Homo sapiens: one gene and its partners. The protein of the gene in region 2 purifies or fractionates together with the protein of the main gene of each other region. This does not show direct contact. Each region holds a gene or a part of one and is shown on either strand. Other genes may lie near its edges.

Region 1 (3,500 bases), on a different chromosome or scaffold from region 2:
GCCATGATTGTGAGACCTCCCCAGCCATGTGGAACCGCGAGTCCATTAAACCTCCTTTTCTTTATAAGTTACCCAGTCTTGAATATTTCTTCATAGCAGTATGAAAATGGACTAACACACCAGTCCTTGAGGGGCTACTCTTCCAGACTTTCCTATATAGCCCCACTGTAGACCCCTGAGGAGGAAACTGGGCTAGGGTCTGAGTGGGGATTTAGGGATGAAAAGCAGCCTTTTCTACCCGTCAGAGCCATCAGCAGGCCATAGCTAAGGCAAGTTTGTAGGCAGGATATAAGACACTGTGCTTCTCACTCTTCATATCTGTGTGCATATGGACCCACATATGTTGGCAGTAAATTCTCCTTAGCCTTTCAATCTCCTTCCCAAACTCAGCCATTTTTCCATTATTTTCTCCTTGTTCTGCAACCTAGTGGCCTTCCTGGGACAACATAACTTTGTGATTAAGACCTTGAACTTTGGAGTTAGGTTTAAAGACTGGAACTTAACCTGTGTTTCCTCATCTGTGCAATGGGGTAGTAATGGTACTTATATTATAGACTTATTGTAAGGGTTAAGAGGCAAAAAATAAAATAAAATTTAGAATAATTCCTGGTATACAACAAATGTTCAAATGGTTGTTGTTTTTATTATTTCCTCTGTCTTTCTTAAGCCCAGTCAAGTATGTGAAATTTGCATCAAGAAAGATGGGCAGTGAATTGAATTCCTATAAACTTGACTTGGAGGTGTGTGTGTATGTGTGCAAATACAGAATTGCTGTATTTATAAATTTTTAAACTAATAAACTTAACCACTTACTGGTGGGAAAATGCACTAAAGAAAATTTTTTAGAGTTAATAAGGAGTTCTAATGTGTTTTATTTCTATCATAGTCACAAACATAACAATGGTCAGCCCATTTGGTTTACCCTGGGCATCCTGGAGGCTCTCAAAGGTTGGGACCAGGGCTTGAAAGGAATGTGTGTAGGAGAGAAGAGAAAGCTCATCATTCCTCCTGCTCTGGGCTATGGAAAAGAAGGAAAAGGTAATAGTATTTCTGTATTTTTCTTACTATAGCACTAGAGTTGTTCTCTGGATTAGGAGACAGAAGTTAGAGTCACTATAACTTTTTTTTTTCCCCTGGAAGTTAATAGGGGGTATGTATTCCTTTAGCAACTGTATTATGTCTTGAGTATCAATTGAAATGGCCAGTTTAAGGCCGTAATGTCTAAATGGGCAACTATGCTAACAATAAAAAAAGAACATTGAGGTCTATTAATACTGTTCACAAATATGGTGGGTTGTTTTAATTGTGATAAAATATACATAAAATTTTTCATTTGAACCATTTTTAAGTACACAGTTCAGTGGCATTAAATACATTCATGTTATTGTGGAACCATCACCACTATCCATCTTCAGAATGTTCTCATCTTCCCAAACTGAAACTCACCAATTTACTTTAACAATGCAGAGAGAAAGATCCATTAACGTAAGTGTTTGGATGAGTTGAACATGTGAAATATAGATTATTAAAGTATTGAATGCATTTTAGATGTGGGTTATATATGGGTTGTACTTCATGAATATTAAGTCTCCCACAGCAAACTGGGAGTTCTTTTCATTCCCGTTTTTAAATTTATTTATAAAGTTTTTAACAATGTATTTAAAAAAAATCATAGAGTGACATGAAATGAATTTAATTCTCCCTGTGTCACAAAGCAGAAGCAAGCTGGCTAGCTGGTCCGGACAGCTTTTGTACTAGTTTTTCAGGGCAGACACATATCCTGCTGTTCAAGTGAGAACCCCTGCAACTTTCCAAAGAGCTGCTTTGTGATATATATCAAGAGGTCTGGGCCAGGCATGGTGGCTCACACCTGTAATCCCAGCACTTTGGGAGGCCAAGGAGGGTGGATCACTTGAGGTCAGGAGTTTGAGACCGACGTGGCCAACATGGTGAAACCCTGTCTCTACTAAAAATACAAAATTAGCTGAACGTAGTGGAGTGCACCTATAATCCCAGTTACTTAGGAGGCTGAGGCAGGAGAATTGCTTGAACATGTGAGGCAGAGGTTGCAATGAGCCAAGAACGTGCCACTATACTCCAGCCTGGGGGACAGAGCCAAACTCCATCTCAAAAAAAAAAAAAGAGGTCTGAAGATGTCTATATGCATTTATTCTATAATTCCTTCAAACCTAAGGGAATAATTAGATATCAGGAAAAAAATTTGTGAACAGGGATGTCCATAATTGCATTGTTTCTAAGCAAAAAATTGGAACTGTCGTAAGTGGTATACTGGTAAGAATTTAGCTAAATAAAATATGGCCCAGTTATTTAAAATGGCATTTCCAAAGAGTTTAAAAATTATATCTGAAATGCATGAGATACAGTATTATATATAAAAGTAGAAAATAAACCTATAGTATATATGATAGTAAATATAGGAAAAGGTACATATACATAGAAAGTTAATCATAAGGAAATAAATAAGAATGTTAAAAATGGACTGTGATACTGGGAATCATATTTATTTCTGGTTTTATCATCCAAGTATGTGCTCTACAATGAGCATGTATTACTTACATAATGAAGAAAAAAAAGTTTAAGTAGTCATCAGAACCAGACAGACAACTACTCTGATATAGTATAAATATAGACTTCATAGCATCCTGAAGTCTAAGGTTAACCACTGACAAAAGTGAGGAGTCAGGATTCACAGCCCATTTCCTGAGAAGGAAAATAGATGCCATATGGCAAGCATTATATATTCCAAAATATACAAATCTATACAAATCTTGTTCATAGGATAAGATTAACTAACCAAATTCAATTCTTCTTTTAGTCATAATCCTCTTTAGAGAAGAAAACCAAGTATCTAGAAAATTTTTTCTGATGCTGAGAATGTTTTCATTTTATCTTTATTGTCTCACCTTTAATATTTACATACAGTAGTTCCCCTTTACCTGTGGTTTCACTTTCTACCGTTTTAGTTACCTGTGGTCAACTGCAGTCTGAAAATATTAAGGTATTTTGAGAATGAGAGACAGATTGCATTCATATAACTTTTATTATGATATGTTGTTGTAATTGTTCTATTTTATTATTTTTAATCTGTTACTATGACTATTTTATAAATTAAACTTTATCACAGATATGCATGTATAGGAAAAAGCATTGTATGTATGGGGTTTGGTACTATCCATGGTTTCAGGCATCTAATGGGATTCTTGGGACATATCCCAGTGGGGACTACTGTACGTTGTATTAGTCCATTACTCTTTCTCATACTATATTTAACTCAAGTTTACTTCACAATAAGTAGAGATCTAAATTTGAGTCATTTCCTTCAAACTGAATGCCATGAAACTAATTTTTCTAATCTGTATTTAACACTAATTTTGTAGTCTTTTAGTACATGCTTGCATGCCTCTTTTGGAAAGATACCAGTTTTATCAACAACCTAGCGCATGTCACATCTCTGTCTAGATCTGAAATGGTAAGCTTCA
Region 2 (2,823 bases):
ACTGATGATCCATGGGAAACCTGGGTAATAATTTGCAATCGTCGCATAGTCATGGCCTGAAAAAGGAAGGGGGGCACAGTAAGAGGCTGGAATATTTCCTTACTGAAGGGCTGCTCAGAGAGAGAGAATGGATTCAGCCTGGGTGTATGTGGGGGAAGTAGATTCCCTAAACAAGGGCATATCAGCATTACAACCCGAGCTCCCCTCCTGATCGCTGGCCCTGATTGTTGTTTCTACTGGCTTGGTCTTCAGCGCCTCCTCCTCCCTCTCCCATTATCACCAGCTCTACTTCCCTAGCCTGGGTGTTTTTGGAACCTTTAGGTTCCAACGCAGTAGACACCTGGAATCCAGGCAGGCAGGTGCCCCTGAGTTAGGAATGGAAGCTCTGGAGGAAGCTGGGCTGCTCCAGAAGGGAAGTGTCTTGGGTGGAGGTGAGGCGGGGAGGAGGAAATAGTCGGGGGTTGTTGGTACCACCCGGAGCTCGCCCTTGCCAGTAGCCGCTGTGCGCTCCCATCGCACAGGGTCCCTGCTATACACCGCCCTCTGGTGGCCTTCAAGAGAATTCTAGGCCTATGCATATGGTTCTCTGAAACGGAAGGCAAGCGGTCTCAGACATGGAAGGGTGTACTGGACCTGCGCAAAGGAGCCCGCTCCCAGGAGGGAGAGATGATGGGTGGGCCTTGTTAAGCTGCCAGCGCTGAGTCACACATATCAGGAGCTGTCAAGGAGTCCACCTGCTTCTCCTTGGGCAAGTCGTTCCAAACCATGGCACTTTTACATCACTCCTGCCTAGTTTAGCTCTGTGGTTCCTGGAAGCTGCAGATGCCCTACTAGTATACCTGTAGTAGCCCAGACTTCCTTATGTATCAAAGTTGCCGCCTCATGTCCCTCACCCTCATGACCCTTGAGTTCAATTGTCAAGGAGGTGAAAGCATAATAGGGTTCCAGGTAGTGCTTGATAAAGGCAATATTTGGAAGCAGGTCAAGTTTACCTTTGGTGTCCTTCCACCCACTGCTGCCCTCAACCCACACTGAGGCTCTGTTGCCACCTTTGTTTTTCCGGGTCTCAGAAACACATCCCAAGCTGTGGACCTTTCCTACTTTCTAAACCTGCCCTTGTCTCTTTTTATCAGATCTGGTGCCTTCCTGTCATGTCACCACAGGTGATGACTAATCCGATAAATGAATTAGTTGTCCTATGTTGATGGGCTCCTTGGTTTTACTGCCCTTCCCAGGTAATCAGGTAATGCATATATATATACATGTATTTTTTAAAGAGACAGGATCTCGCTCTGTTGCCCACGCTGGAGTGCAGTGGTGTGACCTTGGTCCCCTGTAGCTTCAACCTCCTGGGCTCAAGCAATCCTCCCACCTCAGCCTCTCAAGTAGCTGGGACTACAGGTGCATGCCGCTATGCCTGGCTAATGTTTGTATTTTCTGTAGAGACAGAGTCTTGCTACGTTGCCCAGGCTGGTCTTGAACTCCTGGGCTCCCGCCTTTGCCCCACAAAGTGCTGGAATTACAGGTGTGAGCCCCTGTGCCCAGCAGTAATACATATATCTTACAGTTTTAACCTTTAACCATAAAATCATAATGGTGATGATTCCTAGCACTGTAATAAGTTAGCTAGGGAGATATTTCAGGACAAGGAGAACTCATTGGTTTCCCTTAAACTACATCCTGTAAGTAACTTTCTAGGCTTGAGGCTTACCTCTCAACCCTCACTTCCTCCCTTTATTATCTTTATTCCTTTGAGGCCCCTCCTAACTCTCAAAAAAAAAAAAAATCCATGACTTGCCTTCAAGCGGCAATGCGCACCATCTTGGTGCAGCAGGTGGGCATATTCACTTGGCCATGCAACACCTCCCAATTGCAGCACCTTTCACCATCAACAAAATAGGCGATGATGATTTGGCTTAGAAGCCAGCTAGATCTGGGGATAATGATACCTCCGTGACAGGATGGTTGAGAAGGATTGTGCTGGATGTGGAGTAGGCGCTCAGTAAATGTTTTCTATTCTTTGGCCACTTCTGACTGACTTTGCTGCCTTCCGATCACTTCTTTCCTCACCACTCCACTAAAAGCATCAGTCGTGCAAACTTTCTGGGGTTTTGTCACAGCACTTTCAGAAGCTGGAGGTATACTAGCAGCATTTCTGTAGTAGTCCAGACTTCCTTACATATAGAAGTTGACTCTTCATGTCCCTCACCTTTGTGACCCTTGAGCTCAGTAGTCAAGGAGGTGAAAGCATAATGGGGTTCCAGGTAGTGCCTGAAACTACTTTTCTGAAGAAGTATAATTAAAAGTAATCTTGTTTTGAGAATTTATGAAGCATTTTGTGATCACCCTGGCAATACCTCTCTGCATATTGAGAAATCAGAGTTGAGAACCACTGCCGAAAAGTTTCAAGTGACCTGTTTATCTGCCCAGAATCCAGTCTTTTATTCCTTCTTTCCTTTCTTCAAGCAGGATTTACTGAACATCTGCAGTGTAGCCCTGTATTCCCCACTGAAAAACACAAAAGGTTAAGAAACAGCTTCTTCCCTGGAGAAGTATACATAAACACAGAAAATATTTAACATTGTTACTTAATTTGGATGAGCTGAACCGGTGGTAAATGCCATATTAGTACAGAGAAGGCCTTGTGGAGAAAGGAGGGCCTGACTAGGATGTTGAAGCATGTGTAGGCGGAGGAGACTGGAAAGGGCATTCCAGGCAGAAGGAACATCATGAGCAAGGACTCGGAATCTGAGATGAAGCTGTGCAACTTATTTAGAGCAGAAGACTGGAAGTTTAACAATATGTAGCTAATGGTTACTGAGC
Region 3 (3,500 bases), on a different chromosome or scaffold from region 2:
TGATATGTCCAGAGACAGCCCCTCCACCCCTGGGTACAGGAACAAAGTGGGGGCATGGACAGGTGTGAGGCTGAAGCACAGCTAAGAGGCTGGGCTGGGGGATCAGAGCCGAGCTGGGGAGAGGCTCTGTCCAACCTCCCAAGAAATCCCCAGGGCATTTCTGGATGACTTTTTCTCCAAGAGAATGGAGCATCCCTGTCTCAAATGATACGGAACAGAGGTATGAACAGAGAAGCAGCAGAAGGAAGAATACGCCACAGTTGTGGAGCCCACACCTCCTTCCAGACCCTTCCTCATATGCAGGGCTCACCTGGCAGATTGTAAAGCCGGACCGCCTGGTGAATGTGCTCATAGTACGCAACCACCTCTGAGAAGAAAGGGCCTTCAGTGACACGCAGCACGGGGGGCTCCTTGGGGACGTAGGGCTAGAGAAAGAGCAGATTGCTGTTGAAACTACAGCACAGAGGGCAAAGCAGGAAGGTGCCAGCCCAGGGCTGGGCAAGAGAGCACCTATTCCCAGACACCCCTGGGCTGAACAGGAAAGACAAGGCCCCTGGCAGGCAGCAATAAACCTGTGGGAAGGCCTGTGCCCCCTCCTGCCCTCCCTGCCAGGTTGTTCAAGGCATCTTTAGGATACCTTGGCCTCGCCATCGGGCAGGAAGAGGTAGGCTCCACTCTTGTCTTTGGACGTACGGGTGCCATAGACAAGGACCTGCATGTCCACCTGCTGCTCGTGCTCCTCATCCACCCTTCGGATGCTCTGCCAAAAAACACAGCCCTGACCCCTGGCCCCACACCAGCATGTCAGGCCTGCCTCCTGGGAGGACACGGAATAGCTTCCCCAAGGAGCCGTGCCCTGCTTCCCCATGCTGTCAGGCTGGAGCTGAGATGGCCCAGGCCCCGGTCCACTGTGGGTCAGGTGGCAGAATGCTCACAGGGCCGGGAGGCCGCTCTGCACAGTGCCACCACCACACACGCCCTACTCTGGCCCCTGGCCCTTCCCCACCACCCTGGCCTTTTACCTTGAGGAGCCCAGTAAGGCCTGAGAACCAGACCTGCATGTAGCGGTTGCTGAGGGCGAAGTCGCTGGTGCCAGAGTCAATGACACGGAGAGGAAACGCTTCGTGCCTGCTGACGGACAGCTGCCGGCCGTGCAGGTAGATGCGCACAGAGGAGGGCAGCGTGCGGTGCCCATCCAGGCCCAGCTGTAGCTGCAGCACGCCCAGGCCCAGGGCTGGCAGGCGGACAGGCACAGACACCTGTGGGCACAGGAGGGGTGAGGAAGTGGGGGCACGGCTTTCGCCACAGGGGTGCTGAGGCATCCGCTTACTAACAGAGGGCTTGAGCAAGCCCCTGCACCCGCTGGGCCTCTGCCCCTCCTCCAAAGTGGAGGTGATCTGATTTGCCCTTTCTTCCTCATCAGACTTTATGATTCTCAAGTGATATTTGAAAAAGTATGAAGCGGTAACAACACATTAAGCTTTCGATAAACATTGAATGACTGAATGATGGGGCATTATAACTGCTATTTTTACCATTACTATTACCATACCAACCTTCCCCTTCTTTTCAAGGACACGCTCAAATCCCAAGAGTGCCTGTCTTCTGGACAACCCCCTCCCCAGGACACTTGTCCTCAGCCTGGAGAGTAGCAGGGCCACAAGCAGGAGGGTGGGAGGCTGGCGTCGCCGGGCGGGGAGGGGCCCACGACGGGCAGAGGGCCAGGCCCACCTGACAAGCCCACACCTCACCTGGTAGACGTCAGGGACCGCCTCGGTGGCAGAGCTCCAGTGTGCGCTGATCTGCACGGCCAGGGGCTGACCCTCCTCCGAAAGGACACGCACGCGGGGAGAGTTGACCAGCAGGGACACCATGCTGAATCGCTCCTGTTCCAGTGGGTTGAATAGGACCACAAACCTGTGCGTAGAAGGTGGGCTGACCCAGGAGGCTGCTGCTTCCGACCAGGGCAAGCGCCCTGCACTGGTTCAGCACATGCTGGGGCAGAGGGGCCTGAGAGCCAGGGAATGGCTCTGCCTCTCTGCACATGGCGTAGTCCAGGTTACCTGGGCGAGGAATCCAGCTGGATCACCGTGCGCTCTGGGAGGGCGTCGTGACTTAAGCGAGTGTCATCCTGGAATTCAGTGAGCCGGAAGGGAAGAACCATCATGGGCTCAGCCTCCTCCCACCCCACCTGTCCCAGGTGTGGACCAGCGGCTGCACTGGGCACAGAACTCATCCGGATGGGGAAGGAAAAAGAGAAGCGGCACCCCCATCCAGCAGCTCTTGGGATGGGACCTGCACACACCAGAGGGTCCCCATGCAGACCCAGGAGGGGCTCACCACTTGGAGGAAGGGCGCCTCAGGGTCAAAGTGGTAGGTCTCCTTGTCCCCCAGCACCAGATAGTGGGCTGCATGAATGATGACCTGCTTCAGGTTGACAAGGGAGCGCAGAAGCCTGTGGGTGGCGCAGGAGAGGGAAGGAGAGAAGATGACCATAGGGAAGCTGTCTGCCTTGTCAGCAGGACAAGCCCTAGGCCGGCCTACCCCCTGACCACCCAATGTCCTTTCTTTGGGACAGTGAGCAGGGGAGCTTACAAGGGAAAAGAGAAGGCTCCCACCTGACCCCATAGTCCACCACCACAGCCTCCTTGGCCGTGCCAGTGATGGCATCGTGATGCTGGAAGAGCCCCAATGTGCGCCGAGCTTCCGTCAGGAGGGTGAAATCAGACAGTGGGTACCGGCCAGCCAGACCAGAGCGGCGAGCGTGAGCTGCAGCCAGGCTGTACAGAACCTCTGCCCCCCTGCCCAGAGAGAGAAGTTAGCTGCCAGCCTGCACCACTAGCCAGGGCCCACCCACACTCTGCCAGTGCAGCCTCCTTCCTTCCCACCCCTCCTCTACCTGCCCTGGCCTCTGGGCCTATCTATTCCCTTCTGAGCCAATCCAGCCCCTCCTTAAACCCCAAAGGCTGACTCTCCCCCTCCAGCCTGGAAGCGGGGACAGGGTCTCACCGCAGGTGGGCTTCCAGGACTCGGTCTAAGCTCTTGTAGAAGGGCCGGGAAGTGTAATAGCCTGTCCAGTAATGATCCTCCCGGTCCGCATAGGAGAAGAAATCCCCGCTCAGCACAGGAAACCCTGGAGGCCGGGCCCCTGGCTCCACCCCTGTCCTCTTGTACAGGGCATCAAAATAGTCAGAAAGAGTGCCAAACTGGGCCTGTGGGAACCCCAAAAACCCACTCCCATCAGTTCTAGAGCCTCCTGCAAATTGTGGCCACAGTGCTGCAGTTGGGGGTGAGGCAGGGGCTCTGGCCTCAGAAGCAGGAACTGTACATCCTGCCATTCTAGACTTAACAGAAGTAGGGGAGCCTGGGAATTAATTCTGACATAAAAGGGGCACCTTCGGCTGGGCGCGGTGGCTCACGCCTGTAATCCCAGCACTTTGGGAGGCCGAGGCGAGTGGATCACGAAGTCAGGAGATCGAGACCACCCTGGCTAACACAGT
Region 4 (3,500 bases), on a different chromosome or scaffold from region 2:
TATCAAACCTATTTTACTTAATATACCTGGACCAATCCATAAGAGAGCCTATTTAACAACAATTATTAATCATAATTATACCTCCTTATAATACTAACCATCTTTCTAAAAAGTGCAAAAGTAAATGTTTGTTGATCCAGTGAAAGTCTAGCAACTGGGTACAATAATTTGATAACACGAAGCTAACCACCAAAGTATGTGCTGTGTTCATAGGCCAGGAAAGAAGAAATGGATGGTTTACTAGAGTAAGGGAACATGGCTAAAGAAGGCATGAGTAGGGCCACAACCAGAATTTCTCCACACACCTCTCATAACACTCCCAACACCAAATATCCTAATTCCTGCAGGCAGAAAATTGGTAGATTTTAAATAAAACAATTGAACCACCAGGTACAAAAAAGAAGGCTTCTTGGGGATCACACAAATGACATATAAAAACAGTACTTCCTGGGTTCTGCCTCCCACTCCACAAAACCTGGAGCTGGCTACTTGTAATAAGCAGAAACTATATAATAACCAGAAAGTTAGAGAGAATGAGAATATGAGAAAATAAAAGGCATGCTCATTGTTAATAAAACATTGAATACACGTGAAAAACTGAACTTAGGGTAATTTGTTCAAGTTCTCATCCCTAAGATACCATACATCTAGAAATACTAATGACTTGTAATAGAAAACATACTAAAGAAATATGGAATATTTAGACCTGTATTACCACAGATCTTCAAAGTACCAGTATCAATAAGTCATTAAATAAATTCTATTGAAAAAGTCACACAGCATATGCTGCCATTTTGTCCTTGCTACTAGAAATTCTACAAGGTATATTTTGTTTACTTTTTAGAGGATTCGGAAAGCAAGCCATTGGCTGCTTCTTTTCAAGCTCCTGGGCACCCTGCTCCACCATCTGAAGGGGAGCCTGATTTAACTGACCTTCACTTTGATCCTCTGTGTGGGGCCTGTGATGGAATCTAGCTCACCTAGGATTGACAGTCTTGGTAGTTGCCAGAGTAGCTTTTCAGGATCCATTAAGGCATCAGTGTAAAATAGCAAAAATTATTATTTCAGTCCTTAGTTTAAACCACGTTCTCATCCATTCACTAAAGTGAAGGAGGCATAAAGAGCAGCTGATTGCAAACCGTGTAGGAGCACAACCAATTGTTTTCGTATCTTAGTTAAAACTAAGCAAAACTCTGCTAATCATTTAACTATTATATCGAAACCAATTTAAGGACATTGTTTTGAAGTGTTTATTTTTAAAAATTACTATGAGCCCAGACAACAATATGCTTTTCTATTTGCCAGGGAGAAAAATCCGTTTAATTAAATTGTCTTACTTGAGTTCCAGCCTTCATTGGGTTTCCAAGGTCACATACCACCTGGCGAGTTTGGTTTTCTGTCTTAAATGCACAGGAAAGTCTTGCTAAGGCCTTTGATAGACCAAAAAAAAAAAAAAAAATGGATATGAAAGGAAATAAAGTATCACGCAGTTGGATATTTCAGTTTCTTGTCCTAAGCAAATAAATCTAGTTGAGCAAACCAGGAGGTAAGGAAAAAGCCAGAATTGGGTACAATTGCCACATGGAAATGCAGAAGTGTTTCTGAAAGATCCCTAGAGGACTACCATACAAAACCATACAGCCTCTGACAAATAATTTGATGGACAGGCTTAGACACTTTATCTATCTAACCTTGTTTCCAGGCACTTAGCTTGCAATTCTAAAAATGTCATATCAATGCATTATGCAAAGTATTAGGCTTAAAAGGAATTATGTAAGATAGGCACTCCATTGTCTATCAATTTAGCCTTAGGTAGAATAGCTAAGCTTGTGCTTCACTAAATAGGGGAACAGCTCATTAATGTTAATAAGATCCGTGAGTGCATTTCAATTTTTAAAGAGGCAGCCTGCTTACTTCATTGTTTCGGACAACCCCGATGAAATCAGCCTGCAGTGGAATGGAAACGATGAGCTCAGCTTCGTAGGCACCTTCTCCTTGATTCTGAGCCTTAACAATCAATGTCAGAGGGTTGTCATCCCCAATATAGATCTTCTTTTGATCACTACAAGTTAACAATACAAATCCAGACTGAGAAAAAAAGACTACATGGGGAAAGTATGACTGTTCAAAGAAAGAAGAGATAAATACACAGCACTGACATGTTCAACAGTGTCTCAAGGTATTTTAAGACTACTTCACAGCTTGATAGAAAACAGAAAATAGCACACTGGGTGCAAATCGAATGCTTCTCTCAATAAAAATAAACATTGATGCCACTAATATATCACTATCATTCATATCTATTACTGAAGTGAATTACATGTACTTTGTAATTCCCCAATATTTTTCTAAAAGCTAAATTAATCACGTGTCATAATTCTCACAATATTCTTTATAATTCATATGCCTTACAAAATGGTAAGGATATTCCTTGAGTTCAAAGAATGTTTATGATGAAGTGTATCTTTAAAATGATACAATATTATTTTGTGATATTACCCAAAGTTGAATGGTAATAACTCTTTCAACCTAGGCAACTAGTGAAAACACAGTGGATATTTTCTTTAGAAGCTCAATATTGATAGTTTTAGTGTTATAGAAAATCAGGCATTACCCTCCAGGATAACTAATTCTCGTTAAAATATGTTAGTCCTTTGAATAGAAAAATGTGCCCTTCCATTTAAATTTCTTACTACATTATTATTTCAAGCAAAACTTACCTATCTACAGAAACTTCCAGCTTGGGTTTACAGACATTGTCTTCACCACAGTCAAGTAGAATGTGAGCCTAGAAAAAAACATTTTATTTTTCTACATGAAAAATACCAATGCAGGTGGCATAAGCAGTGTTTATCAATATCTATGTGGTTAAGCCTATATGTACACATGTATATATTTTCAGATACTCATCAGCTTGTTTGTTGTATACCTGAATGCAAAAGAGACCATGGCCACTTATTTTTAAGCAGGTCAGTGTAGCCAGTCAAGAAAGAGAAAGAAGAAAAAGATTCATAGGATATGATACAGTTCCTTGGAACCTTTCAGTTTTATCTCAGATTAAGCTGTTATCATATTTGAATGAAGACTGGTGTAGAAAAGAAAGTAATAGCCAAGAAATGAGGCTTCATTTTTACCCTGCTGCTAGTTAAGTTGTGAGATGTTGGGCAAAATAGACTCCCTTCTAGAGTTTCTCATTATGGACTGTGCCTCTACCAATATCAGGAAATAGGGCTGCAGAGGATAAAAGAATAAGGAGCTGTAGATATTCAGCAGCAATTCAGACAGGCAGAGAGACCAAGGGGCAAAAGAAACTGGATAAAATGAGTCCAGCATTGCATGGTCATTTGGAAAAAGATGAAGGAAAAGGAACTTGAAGCATTATAGTTAACCAATCAGGGTAGGTGAAAAAAACAAAGACCTGAACTTTTTCCCCACTAGATCTGGCCAGGAGAATGTTCCAGCTAGAGCAAAATGGAAACACCCAAAAGAGAGAAACAGTG
Region 5 (3,500 bases), on a different chromosome or scaffold from region 2:
AAAGAAGGAACTTGTTGGGGATGTGGGGGGGAGTGTCTGCCATTAGTCATTTCTTCCACAGAATAGCTGTTTTTACTATTCCCTGCCTTTGTCATCTTGTGTATTTCATTCATTTTGAAGTGCAGCCACAATTTAGTGCTCCCATTATTAGTTCTATAACTTGTAAGATTAGACATGTATTTTTCTACCATTTAGAAAGATTAAGATAATCTACACCTCTGTTGGGTTAGTGTGTGCTAGTGGGTTAGGCATTCATTTTTTTCTTTCCTACTCCAAATTGCCAACTTTCCCTTTGGTTATTTTTGTGTTTCCAGGAGTGCCATTGCCAATCTCGTGGGCTCTGCAGAAAGATCGTGTAACTGAAAATTTCAGCAAATAAATAAATAAATAAATAAATAAAATTCCCTTGTAGACAGAACTGTCTGTACACTCCATTTTTGTAAAGTTGGAAGTGTGAACATTATATGAATATATGATGGAGTTTTTTTTCTTTAAGCCATAATTGCATGTTCTTTTAGACCCAATATGGTATATAAAATGGTCACTGAATTTGGAATCAGAAAATCCTGGTTGAAGTCTTAATCTTTTAACTTCTTATCATTCAATCATGGTTAACAATGGTATTAATAATATTCACAAAGTTAGATATTTTGTCATTGAGTTCGTTGCTATATTGCTTGGTCGATTAGTTGATATTGAGATCGCAAGAGCATCATCACCAGTAAGTGATACATTTTCGATTGTAACCTAAGGTCGTTGTTATTTTGTAATGCCATGCTGTTTTCCTTCTTGTACTACCCATGAAATGTTTTTTTATGTTCTAACGCAATATATAATATTTTTATGTTCTTCACTTGTTATCAATTGATGATTTAATGTTGAATCCTGTTTGCTAGTTTATGATTATTCATTAAAGGCCATCTTTAAAAGGGAGAGGTGTTTAGCACATATTCAATTGAAAACTAAATGGAAAGCAAATTCTGAAAGGATTTATGTTCAAGAATTCAATGTTAAATCTAATTTTTAAAAAATTTATCATATTGAGAAATTTTCTAGAGCATCAGAGACCTTCCTTGGAAACAAGTGACCCCAGTCTTTCTAATGCAGGTTGAGTCTCTATCCACAAAGTGGCTTTTCTAGGTACTCTAGATTCCTGGAGCATCTTGAAAATAGAGTATCAAGACTCAGGGAGACCGAGCAGCCACCAGCAGGATCGTGTAAGGATGGCACTCTCATTTCTAGGAGAAGAGGCTGTATTGATGGTGACATGACCAGGCTGGGCTGCCACCTGCTGCCCACCAGGGCTCCAGGCCTCAGCATGCGATGCCTCTGAATGGCATTACCTTCCGGTCCCAGATACTCATCACTTTAGGTAAACTGAGGCAGAATAACATGCGTGACAGGATTTCCGAATGGAATATCGCTCAGTGTGCCTAATAGTCATTTAAGGTGATCTCATACAGCTATGGAGAGAAAACCCGTTTAATGCCAACCTTAGACACCAGCTGCGTGCGTGGTGATTATATCTTTAGTCCCCCATTTTGCTCCCTTTTTTGAAGAACTATTGAAGAAGAACGGAAGGAAATCGATTTTGAGGAAATTAAATTTTCTTTTGAAACAGCATGATGGTTTTTAAAACAAAGAGAAAGTGGGGAACAGGATGCTGATTACGAACCGTGCCGGGTTCTGCCTGCCGACTCAGGCTGTGCTTCTCCCTGCTCCGTCTTTGCTGCCTGCAATCGTACATATTTTAAAGAGCAGATGCGCGCTGCTTATGGATTTGTGTAAATGTGCGTGTGCTGTCTGCAGAATGCGGGGCACACCGTGCTCTGTTGACATTATCCATTATGCTCTGTTGCTCAGCTTCAGACAGCAAAGTCCTGACATGTGCAGCCGTGTGGAGGATGCCGAAGGAATTGGAATCAGGCAGCCACGAGTCCCCTGATGATTCATCCAGCACTGCACAGACCCTGGAGCTGCTCTGTCACCTTGACAACACAGCCCATGGCAACATGGCCTGGTAGGATTTTGCATATTTCATGCGCCCAGAACGAGCCTGCAGGTTGGCCAGGTGCAGGAGCTTGTGCAGATTCCTTTGCAGGAGCCACCGTCCACACCTCGGAAACGCTCCTTTCTTTTAAAAAGCTGCGAGAATTTGATTTTTAATTTTAGTCCCTGTGTTTTCTAGATTAGCCGCATTGACAGAAATGTAGCCAGCGCGCCTGCATCCCCACTTTCTCCTCTTCATCTAAGAGGAGTGTTGCCCGTGGGGACCTGCCAGAGGGTAAAGGGTCAGGCACTGCACTGCCCTCGAGCGCTGTGTGGCTTTTCAGCTTGGTCAGCATGCACTTATTCACACTCACATGGCAATTATTTACCACTTCAGGTTGAGGCTTACAATCCCTTCCTCCCGTGGACAAAGCATGAATGCGTGGTGTGCCTGTGGGGCTGCGTGCCCAAGCCCGCCCGTGTCCGGCATGTGGTGTGTCATTCACGTGGCTCCCTGGCCAGTCGCTGCTTCATGAGCTTGGAGGCCTGGCTGTGTGCACCCACTGGTCATTCCCAGGGACCTCTCCACGGCAGTCACAGCTGCTCTCTGAAGGCCCTGAGGCCTTGGTAAAAATTAAGAAGCCGTATTTTCTAAAGGAGATTGCGGGGGCATACTGTTGTTATGAGTGTTTACAATAACGATAGTGATTGTTTTACTTAATGCATTAACACATACACATGTGCGTGTGTGTCTGCAAGAGACAAATCGTTTGTACAGTGACTTCTGTCTCGTCAGTTCTACCAATTAAATAAATTTAATACAACAAATACTTATTAAATACCTGCTACAGAAACCCTGCCAGGCTCCAGGGACACCAAGGTGACAAGTTAGAGGGCCCGGCCTCCGAGAGTCATGATCTCCACGGGGAGACCCAGGGTGTACACAACTAACTGTGGCTGGGCCAGCCGTGGCGTACCCCGAAATCATTACGAACTGTACGCTGTGGCCCCGGAAGGAGCAGCCATTAATTGTTATTAGAGGAATTGAAGAGGGATTCGCTTACGAGGTGGAGTTTGGAACGGGGACTGAGGACCGACTCAGGTTTCCCTCGTCAGGTATGGAGGAGAGCAGTGCTGAGGGTCAGGCAGTCTGTGGCTCCGGATGCTCTCTGTGTATCAGTTTGTGGTGGAATTATTTTTATACTTGCTGTGCTTCTACCACGTCGGTGGATATTTCTTCTTACGGAGATGCTCTGAGTATTAAAATCACAGCCAGTCTTGCACAGTAAGGGGAGGCAGATGAAGAGTCCCAAAGTCCCCAGGAGTGATTGCCACTGCTGTCACTCCCCGCCCGAATGCAGGATCTCTGTGCAAACCACACAGCACTGTTAGGAGTTCCACATTTCAAATGATTGCCACATCCCCAGCAAATAGACATTTGTGCGCATGTGTGTGATGCACATGTGCACACATTTGTGCTTGTGTCTCTGTGCACACGTATGTGTGCACAT
Region 6 (3,500 bases), on a different chromosome or scaffold from region 2:
GGGTCTCAAACATGTAGCCCAGGAGAGCCTAAGTGAACCTGGGGCCCTCTCCAAACAGATCCTGGGGGAGACTCAGTGCACACCCGGAGAAGCAGCTCCTCCCCATCGGATCTCTAGTGCTTGGCAGGGGGCGGGGTCTTGAGGGGGTGTCCACAACACATGGCAGACTGCAGATGAAGAAACTGAGGCCCAGAGGGGGTGAGGCTTGCCCAGGGTGACCTAGTAGCTGAATAGATGGGAGAATGGAGGCCAGGGCCTCACTGAGACTCTCTGGTCAGCTGCCCCTGGGCTGTATCCAATAAGGAAACTCCCCTGCTTCTGAAGCTGTTCTCGAAATTATCAGCTCAGTGTGACCCTGTGGGGGGTTGAGCCACATTGTTTCTTTAGAAGCATCTCCATACATGGCTGGTTCCAACCCTTGGCAGGAGGGACCATATTGTGCTGTAAAATAGACTCATTTAGAGAAGCCGGAGATTAAAGCACCCACCTATGTCCTTCAAAGCTCTCCAGGCAAGTGCCATGGTGGGAACAGGTAGGGAGTGTCAGTGGGGGGAAGCCCAGACTCTGCTCACTCATTATCTGCAGATTAGGGCTATTGTTGGTGGCTACTAAGTCAGGGATTTCAAAATCAGGAAGATGCAGCCAGGAAAAGAGGAGGCAGGACTCTGCAGAGGAGGCAGGACTCTGCAGAGTCAGAGTGATAACCGAGTCTGAGTCCAAGCTTTGCCAGTGTTAGCAAGCGACTCCATCTCTCTGAACCTCGGATTACCCATCTGTAAAATAGAGCTAGCAGCAAGATGTACCTTTTTGGGTGGTGCAGGGCTGAAGGAGTTGGCACAGTGCCTGAAAGAGGGTGCGGGCAATGCGCCCAACTGCTGTGGCTGCTGGGTTTGGTGCCAGGTTCGATTCTGCAGGCAGAAACTTCTACATGAGGCTCCTTCTCGGAAGGAGCTCAGGACACAATTTGGAGGCTGGGCTGGCAAGGGTGACCTGCTGGAGCTATTCAACTTCACTTAAAGACAGGCCTGCAGTCCAAGCCTGCCCAATTCCTGAGACCATTCTCTCTCCACTGCTGAGCCCCACGGCCACTCTGCAAGGGATTTCCCACCCACCTGTTTGGGGCCCTTTGGAGTTTGGTTTTAATTGGGTCACGGGATGCTGTGACAGGCTGCCCCTGCCTGGTGGGGATCTGGGGTCACTGATGACATTGTGCCCATGGAGAGAGCCCAGCAGAAAGGGATTCCCTCCAAGGCGACACACAGGGCAAAGCTCACATCAGAAGCCAGGCAGGCCCTCTGCACCTGGTAATTAGCCAGCCTGGGTGCTGTCAGGCTCACACGTGTGTGTGTGTGTGTGTGTGTGTGTGTGTGTGTGTGTGTAAAGCATGTACCCTATGGTACAGTTGAGAATATGGAGGCCTCAGATGGGGCTTTTGCCAGAAACTGCCATGCCTACTGCTCACACTTCCATAGCACGTGCCCCCAAGCACCCCATGGTGTAGGTGCTGTTATTATCACTATCTTACAGTTATGGAGCAGTGGCTCAAGGTGTAACTGACTTGCCCAAAATCACACTACAAGGACACAGCAGGGCTGAGATTTGAACCCAGGCAGTGGCTTCAGAGCCTGAGCTGTTTCCTACTGCAGAGGGAGGAGGCAAGACTTCTACCCGTAGCCAGATGGGGAGGCATGGGCACAGGAACGGCTCTTGGGTGAAGTGGAGGGAGGAAGAGGAGGACTGAAGGCCAAGGCCACGTCAGGAGTGATGGGAGACCCCACAAAGGCCTCCCTGAGAAGAGCTAGAGACAAAGATGAGTGCCTCCTCATCTGGAAGATGAAAAGATGTCTTTGCCTGCATGGGCTGCTGTCACAAAGTCCCAGGGGCTAGGGGGCTTCAACAACAGAAATTTCTTTCTTTACAACTCTGGAAGCTGGAAGTCTGAGATTAAGGCACCAGCAGGATTTGTTCCTTCCAAGGCCCCTCTCCTTGGCTCACAGGTGGCTGCCTTCTCCCTGTCTTCACCTGGTCTTCCCTCTGTGCATGTCTCTATCCTGATCTCCTCTTTTTAATTTTTGTGTAAGGACGTAGTCATATTGGGTTGGGGCCCACTCTAGTGACCTCATTCTAACTCAGTCCCCTCTTTAAAAGCCCTATCTCCAGATATAGTCACATTCTGGGGTATTGAAGGTAAGGACTTCAGCATATGCATTTTGGGGGCACAATTCAGCCAGAACAGGAGGACGGTGGGGATGTCCACATGAAGAGGTTCAGGCAGAATTCCTTTAGGAGGGGAAGATGTCTCTCTGTGGGACAAGGGTGGCATGGAGCAGCCCCTGGGGGAAGGAGAAGGGGACAGTTTGCATACTGGTATTCTGCCTACCCCAGGGTGGACACTCACTCAGCGTTTGCTGAATGAACAGGGCAAGGCCAGCAGTGCTGATGGTCCCAGGCATGTAGCTGGTCTGAGTTCATAGAAGGACCACAGCGCCCTGCCATGTGCCAAACCAGGACACCAGAGTGAAGGCCAGAAGCTCACATGGAAGCAGCTTAGTTCCCTGGTAACCTCGAGATGCTGATGAGACAGAGCAGAGCAGAGGGAACCCTCTCCCTCCATATCCCATCCTCCAAAATGTGTCCCTTGATGTGGATGGGTAGACAGGATTCCTGCCCTGGCAGCCAGACCCCTGCCTTGGGTCTGCACCTCCTCTCCCTCCTTCCTCTCCCCGTCATCCCTAAATCTTGTCCTCGAGCCACTGCCACCCTGTGTAAACCCTCATGCCCAGTCTTGCGGGTGCCATCCCTTCTCTTTGAAGCTGAATGGACCAAACATACCCATTGAGTGTTGGGTGGGGACATCTCTGGAAAGTCAGCACCTGGACCAGCTCCACCCCTCTCTGAGGACACCTTCTTTCCCTTTCAGAACAAAGAACAGCCACCATGCAGCTCTTCCTCCTCTTGTGCCTGGTGCTTCTCAGCCCTCAGGGGGCCTCCCTTCACCGCCACCACCCCCGGGAGATGAAGAAGAGAGTCGAGGACCTCCATGTAGGTGCCACGGTGGCCCCCAGCAGCAGAAGGGACTTTACCTTTGACCTCTACAGGGCCTTGGCTTCCGCTGCCCCCAGCCAGAGCATCTTCTTCTCCCCTGTGAGCATCTCCATGAGCCTGGCCATGCTCTCCCTGGGGGCTGGGTCCAGCACAAAGATGCAGATCCTGGAGGGCCTGGGCCTCAACCTCCAGAAAAGCTCAGAGAAGGAGCTGCACAGAGGCTTTCAGCAGCTCCTTCAGGAACTCAACCAGCCCAGAGATGGCTTCCAGCTGAGCCTCGGCAATGCCCTTTTCACCGACCTGGTGGTAGACCTGCAGGACACCTTCGTAAGTGCCATGAAGACGCTGTACCTGGCAGACACTTTCCCTACCAACTTTAGGGACTCTGCAGGGGCCATGAAGCAGATCAATGATTATGTGGCAAAGCAAACGAAGGGCAAGATTGTGGACTTGCT
Region 7 (3,500 bases), on a different chromosome or scaffold from region 2:
TGAGTACATCTTTTGTTTTAGAGGCCTAGCAAATTTCCACTATCATAGAGAAATGTATGCTTTCTCAGTGAGATGTTCTGTTTATTATTTCATTTATCTGTGTTTTCTTAATTTTTTTTTCTGTTAATTTTAGAAAAGGAGTAACTAAGTAGATAGCATACTTAGGTCAGATTATAGTTTAGAATGAATAATTCTTTTTTTCTCAGTCAATGATCTTTGTACCTTGAGGGAATCTTACATGCTTATTGGCTGAATATATCTGGTTTTAGTCCATTTGGGCTCCTATAACAAAATATTCTAGACTGCATAGTTTATAAACAGAGAAGTTTATTTCTTAGAATTCTAAAGGCTGGAAGTCAGAGATCAGGGTGCCAGCATTGTTGGGAGGGAGGGCCTGCTTCCTGGTTCATAGACATTGTCTTGCTGTATCCTCAAATAGTGGAAGGGATGAAGGAGCTCTCTGGGGTCCCTTCTATAGGGGAACTAATCTAATTAATGAGGGCTCTACCTTCACGATTTAATCATCTCACAAAGGCCCCACCTTCTAATATATTATCACCTTGGAGGTTAGAATTTCAGCTTCGGAATTTTGGGTAGACATGAACATTCAGACCATAGCAGTATCTTATTAAGTTTTTCTTTACAATTTAGTAACTCAGTTGTTGTAATCAGATAATTTGTTACTTCTTAGATCACAGTGTAATTTCTTTGAAGATAACTTACTCTTTTTGGACTTCTTTGAACCTTGGAAGACTATAGACCCTTTGGCCATGTTATGGTCTTTTAAAATGTATTTTTGATTTTTCTAATGAGGCTGATCTTTATTTTGACCATCTTTTTTTTTCTTTCTTTCTTTTGATTGATTGATTGATTGATTGAGACAGGGTCTCACTCTGTCACCCAGGCTGGAGTGTGGTGGCAGAGTCATGGCCCAGTGCAGCCTCGACCTCTTGGGCTCAGGTGATCCTTCTGCCTCAGCCTCCTGAGTAGCTGGGACCACAGATGTGCACCACCATGCCTAATTTTCTTAAATTATTATTGGTGGATATGGGGTCTTGCTATGTTGCCCAGACTGGTCTTGAACTCCTGGGCCCAAGTGATATTCCTGCCTTGGCCTCCCAAAGTGCTGGGATTACAGGCATCAGCCACCATGCCCAGCTTGACCATCTTTTATAGGATATGTTTTGAAAAAAATTGTTTAGGAAAATATATTTTGAAAACATAAATTTCTTCATGAATCAGTTAATATTTATAATTTAGTGCTCTTCTAATTTTTGATAATTTTGTATTCGATATGCTATTTGATTTTATGCTTTAGTATTTAAAATTTATTTTTGTGGTTGTAAGAGGTTTGACATATATTTTCTCATTTGTCTATATTAAACTCATAACCATATTAAACATTTATTAAAATTAAATATTTAATTTATCATTAATTGTGGATTTAGGCTGACTGTTTTCTGAGTATTATGCATAAAAAGAAAGGAAAATCTTATAGTTATTGAATATACACCCAGGATCAGATATGATTTGTTTCTGACTTAGTCTCCCAATAGGCCTTAAGTGTACTTTGGTAAAATTTTACAATCTATGATAGAATTTCTGGTAATTCAGTGTACTTTGAAATACTGACTTAGCACTTTATGTAGCTACTTTCCATTCAGTTTGGCAACCTGATGGCATTCCTGGTATAGGAAATGGGATTGTCTCTATTACATCCCTTAAGGATGTTGGCTATTGGCCTAAATAGATATTCGTTAACAAATTAGGAATATATTCCTGTCTCATTTTAATCTGGAACTATAGAGTAAATGCTTCTGATAACTTATTTTCTATATTTTGGGTTTGCTTGATTTTCTTTTTCTTTGCCTTACAGGATGTTCAGCTAAAAGTAAAAACCTACTTGCTTGGAACTGATTTGTCTATATTCAAATATGATGATTTCATCTTTGTTTTGGATATAATCAGCAGGTAGTATTTAAGATCTTGTCTTATTCTTTAGTTTGAGTCATTCAACCATGATAAATCATGAGCTAGTGAGTTATCATCTATAACTTCTTTATGGAAATGAAGATAATTTTTGCTGCTAAGTTTGTGAGTGTATTTAAATATTTCTGCCCTTTGGGTGTTTGTAAACCTTTATGGATTTGTGATCTTTAGAATTTTTTCACATGTCCAAATTTTAGTGATTTTTTTTATCTTTGAAGAAAGAGAAACCACACTTCTTTTTCTCTATAAGGCTGCTGCTGAAATTTACTGAAACCTTTTTATCCAACTAGGTTGATGCAAGTTGGAGAAGAATTTTGTGGTAGCAAGTCTGAAGTTTTACAGGAATCTATTAGAAAACAAAGTGTCAATTATTTCAAGAATTACCATAGGTAAGAACTCTAATAAGATATGAATCGACTTATTTAGGTAATGAGAATACTTTTGTCTAATACTTAATCTTATAGCATTAATTGATTTTAAACAATTACTTTTGAATTTGAATGTGTTGTAGCTTTTTTAAGATGGTTAAGGATTTTTTTAACCAAAATATGATGAAATGTTCTCATTACATATTCATTGTACATTTTAATATATTTTTGTCTTGAGGGGCTTAAAATATTGAACTGATTTTTTAATGAGTAAAACATGATTATTATATCAAGGTTCACAGAAAGAATTTGGCCACTGTTCCATACCTGCATACATATGGGTGTGCTTATAAGGAAGTTAAATCAGTAGAGGCAGTGCTCAGTGAGGGGGTGCTTGAGAGTATCTATCTTTTAAATGTAAGAAGGATTCTAGAGGAGAGGATGTGATATTCAGAATTCCCCTATAAATCCAAATTTGTATACTGCATTGCTTTGCAAAACAATCACTGCTAATATTTAAAAGAGTGACTAGGAATGGTTTGGGTAGTGGAGGAAGGTGGGAAAGAATGTTTATAATAGCAGTGTGATTATATCCTTACAGCAGCAATAAATTGAGGGAAGGGAGAGCTAACATGAGATTTCTCTTGATATAAGCTAGACCCCAAGTTGTATCCCTTTTGTCCTTTGAGTTGAGTTTCATCTTACTTTTTATTCTGAACTTTTACTTTTTACAATTGAATTTAAGTTTTGATTTCCTTGTTATTTGGTCCCAGAGAGAGTCATGATTTGAAATTCTGCTTTTTCTCCTTGTTCATAGTCAACACCTGCTCACAGTGATATATGCCATGTCAAAAGAGAGATGACTGAACACCAAACCATTGATTAATTAATTATTATATATATTTGAATACAAGTTATCTCTGTTAATTGTAAACAATGAAGTAAATTGTTTGAAAAAGATTTAAATTGAACTATACTAAAGCAGAGCCTTTGAGTTTCATGACTGAGAATGTTTAAAAATTTTTTAAAAATTTAATTGACTAAACCTCAGGGAAACAGTGGGAAGGGACCAACAGGAAGCCCTAACACTGCCTTTATTTATAAGTTCCTTGTCTGCTAAAACTTAAGCCCTGACTAAAACAA

What was found.
Region 1: the proteins of DHH (region 2) and FKBP14 purify together in Homo sapiens (affinity purification with mass spectrometry; 2 studies listed by BioGRID and IntAct, with this or other methods). This does not show direct contact.
Region 3: the proteins of DHH (region 2) and MAN2A2 purify together in Homo sapiens (affinity purification with mass spectrometry; one large-scale study listed by BioGRID and IntAct). This does not show direct contact.
Region 4: the proteins of DHH (region 2) and ITGAV purify together in Homo sapiens (affinity purification with mass spectrometry; one large-scale study listed by BioGRID and IntAct). This does not show direct contact.
Region 5: the proteins of DHH (region 2) and EIPR1 purify together in Homo sapiens (affinity purification with mass spectrometry; 2 studies listed by BioGRID and IntAct, with this or other methods). This does not show direct contact.
Region 6: the proteins of DHH (region 2) and SERPINA5 purify together in Homo sapiens (affinity purification with mass spectrometry; one large-scale study listed by BioGRID and IntAct). This does not show direct contact.
Region 7: the proteins of DHH (region 2) and VPS50 purify together in Homo sapiens (affinity purification with mass spectrometry; one large-scale study listed by BioGRID and IntAct). This does not show direct contact.

The regions. Positions count from the first base shown.
Region 1 is NC_000007.14:30,020,203-30,023,702, reverse strand, and holds part of FKBP14 (peptidyl-prolyl cis-trans isomerase FKBP14 precursor), read left to right. Parts: intron 1-886; coding exon 887-1,038; intron 1,039-3,398; exon of another isoform or gene 3,399-3,490; intron 3,491-3,500. UniProt on the Homo sapiens protein: PPIase which accelerates the folding of proteins during protein synthesis. Has a preference for substrates containing 4-hydroxylproline modifications, including type III collagen. May also target type VI and type X collagens.
Region 2 is NC_000012.12:49,086,156-49,088,978, reverse strand, and holds the end of DHH (desert hedgehog protein preproprotein), read left to right. Parts: 3' UTR 1-2,323; downstream 2,324-2,823.
Region 3 is NC_000015.10:90,909,802-90,913,301, reverse strand, and holds part of MAN2A2 (alpha-mannosidase 2x), read right to left. Parts: intron 3,213-3,500; coding exon 3,010-3,212; intron 2,802-3,009; coding exon 2,619-2,801; intron 2,456-2,618; coding exon 2,341-2,455; intron 2,132-2,340; coding exon 2,064-2,131; intron 1,918-2,063; coding exon 1,752-1,917; intron 1,260-1,751; coding exon 1,023-1,259; intron 786-1,022; coding exon of another isoform or gene 761-785; coding exon 638-760; intron 426-637; coding exon 311-425; intron 30-310; coding exon 1-29.
Region 4 is NC_000002.12:186,663,056-186,666,555, reverse strand, and holds part of ITGAV (integrin alpha-V isoform 1 preproprotein), read right to left. Parts: intron 2,789-3,500; coding exon 2,721-2,788; intron 2,063-2,720; coding exon 1,915-2,062; intron 1,431-1,914; coding exon 1,338-1,430; intron 1-1,337.
Region 5 is NC_000002.12:3,255,819-3,259,318, reverse strand, and holds part of EIPR1 (EARP and GARP complex-interacting protein 1), read left to right. Parts: intron 1-1,863; coding exon 1,864-2,020; intron 2,021-3,500. UniProt on the Homo sapiens protein: Acts as a component of endosomal retrieval machinery that is involved in protein transport from early endosomes to either recycling endosomes or the trans-Golgi network.
Region 6 is NC_000014.9:94,584,426-94,587,925, forward strand, and holds part of SERPINA5 (plasma serine protease inhibitor preproprotein), read left to right. Parts: intron 1-2,920; 5' UTR 2,921-2,937; coding exon 2,938-3,500. UniProt on the Homo sapiens protein: Heparin-dependent serine protease inhibitor acting in body fluids and secretions. Inactivates serine proteases by binding irreversibly to their serine activation site. Involved in the regulation of intravascular and extravascular proteolytic activities.
Region 7 is NC_000007.14:93,294,866-93,298,365, forward strand, and holds part of VPS50 (syndetin), read left to right. Parts: intron 1-1,876; coding exon 1,877-1,971; intron 1,972-2,279; coding exon 2,280-2,378; intron 2,379-3,500.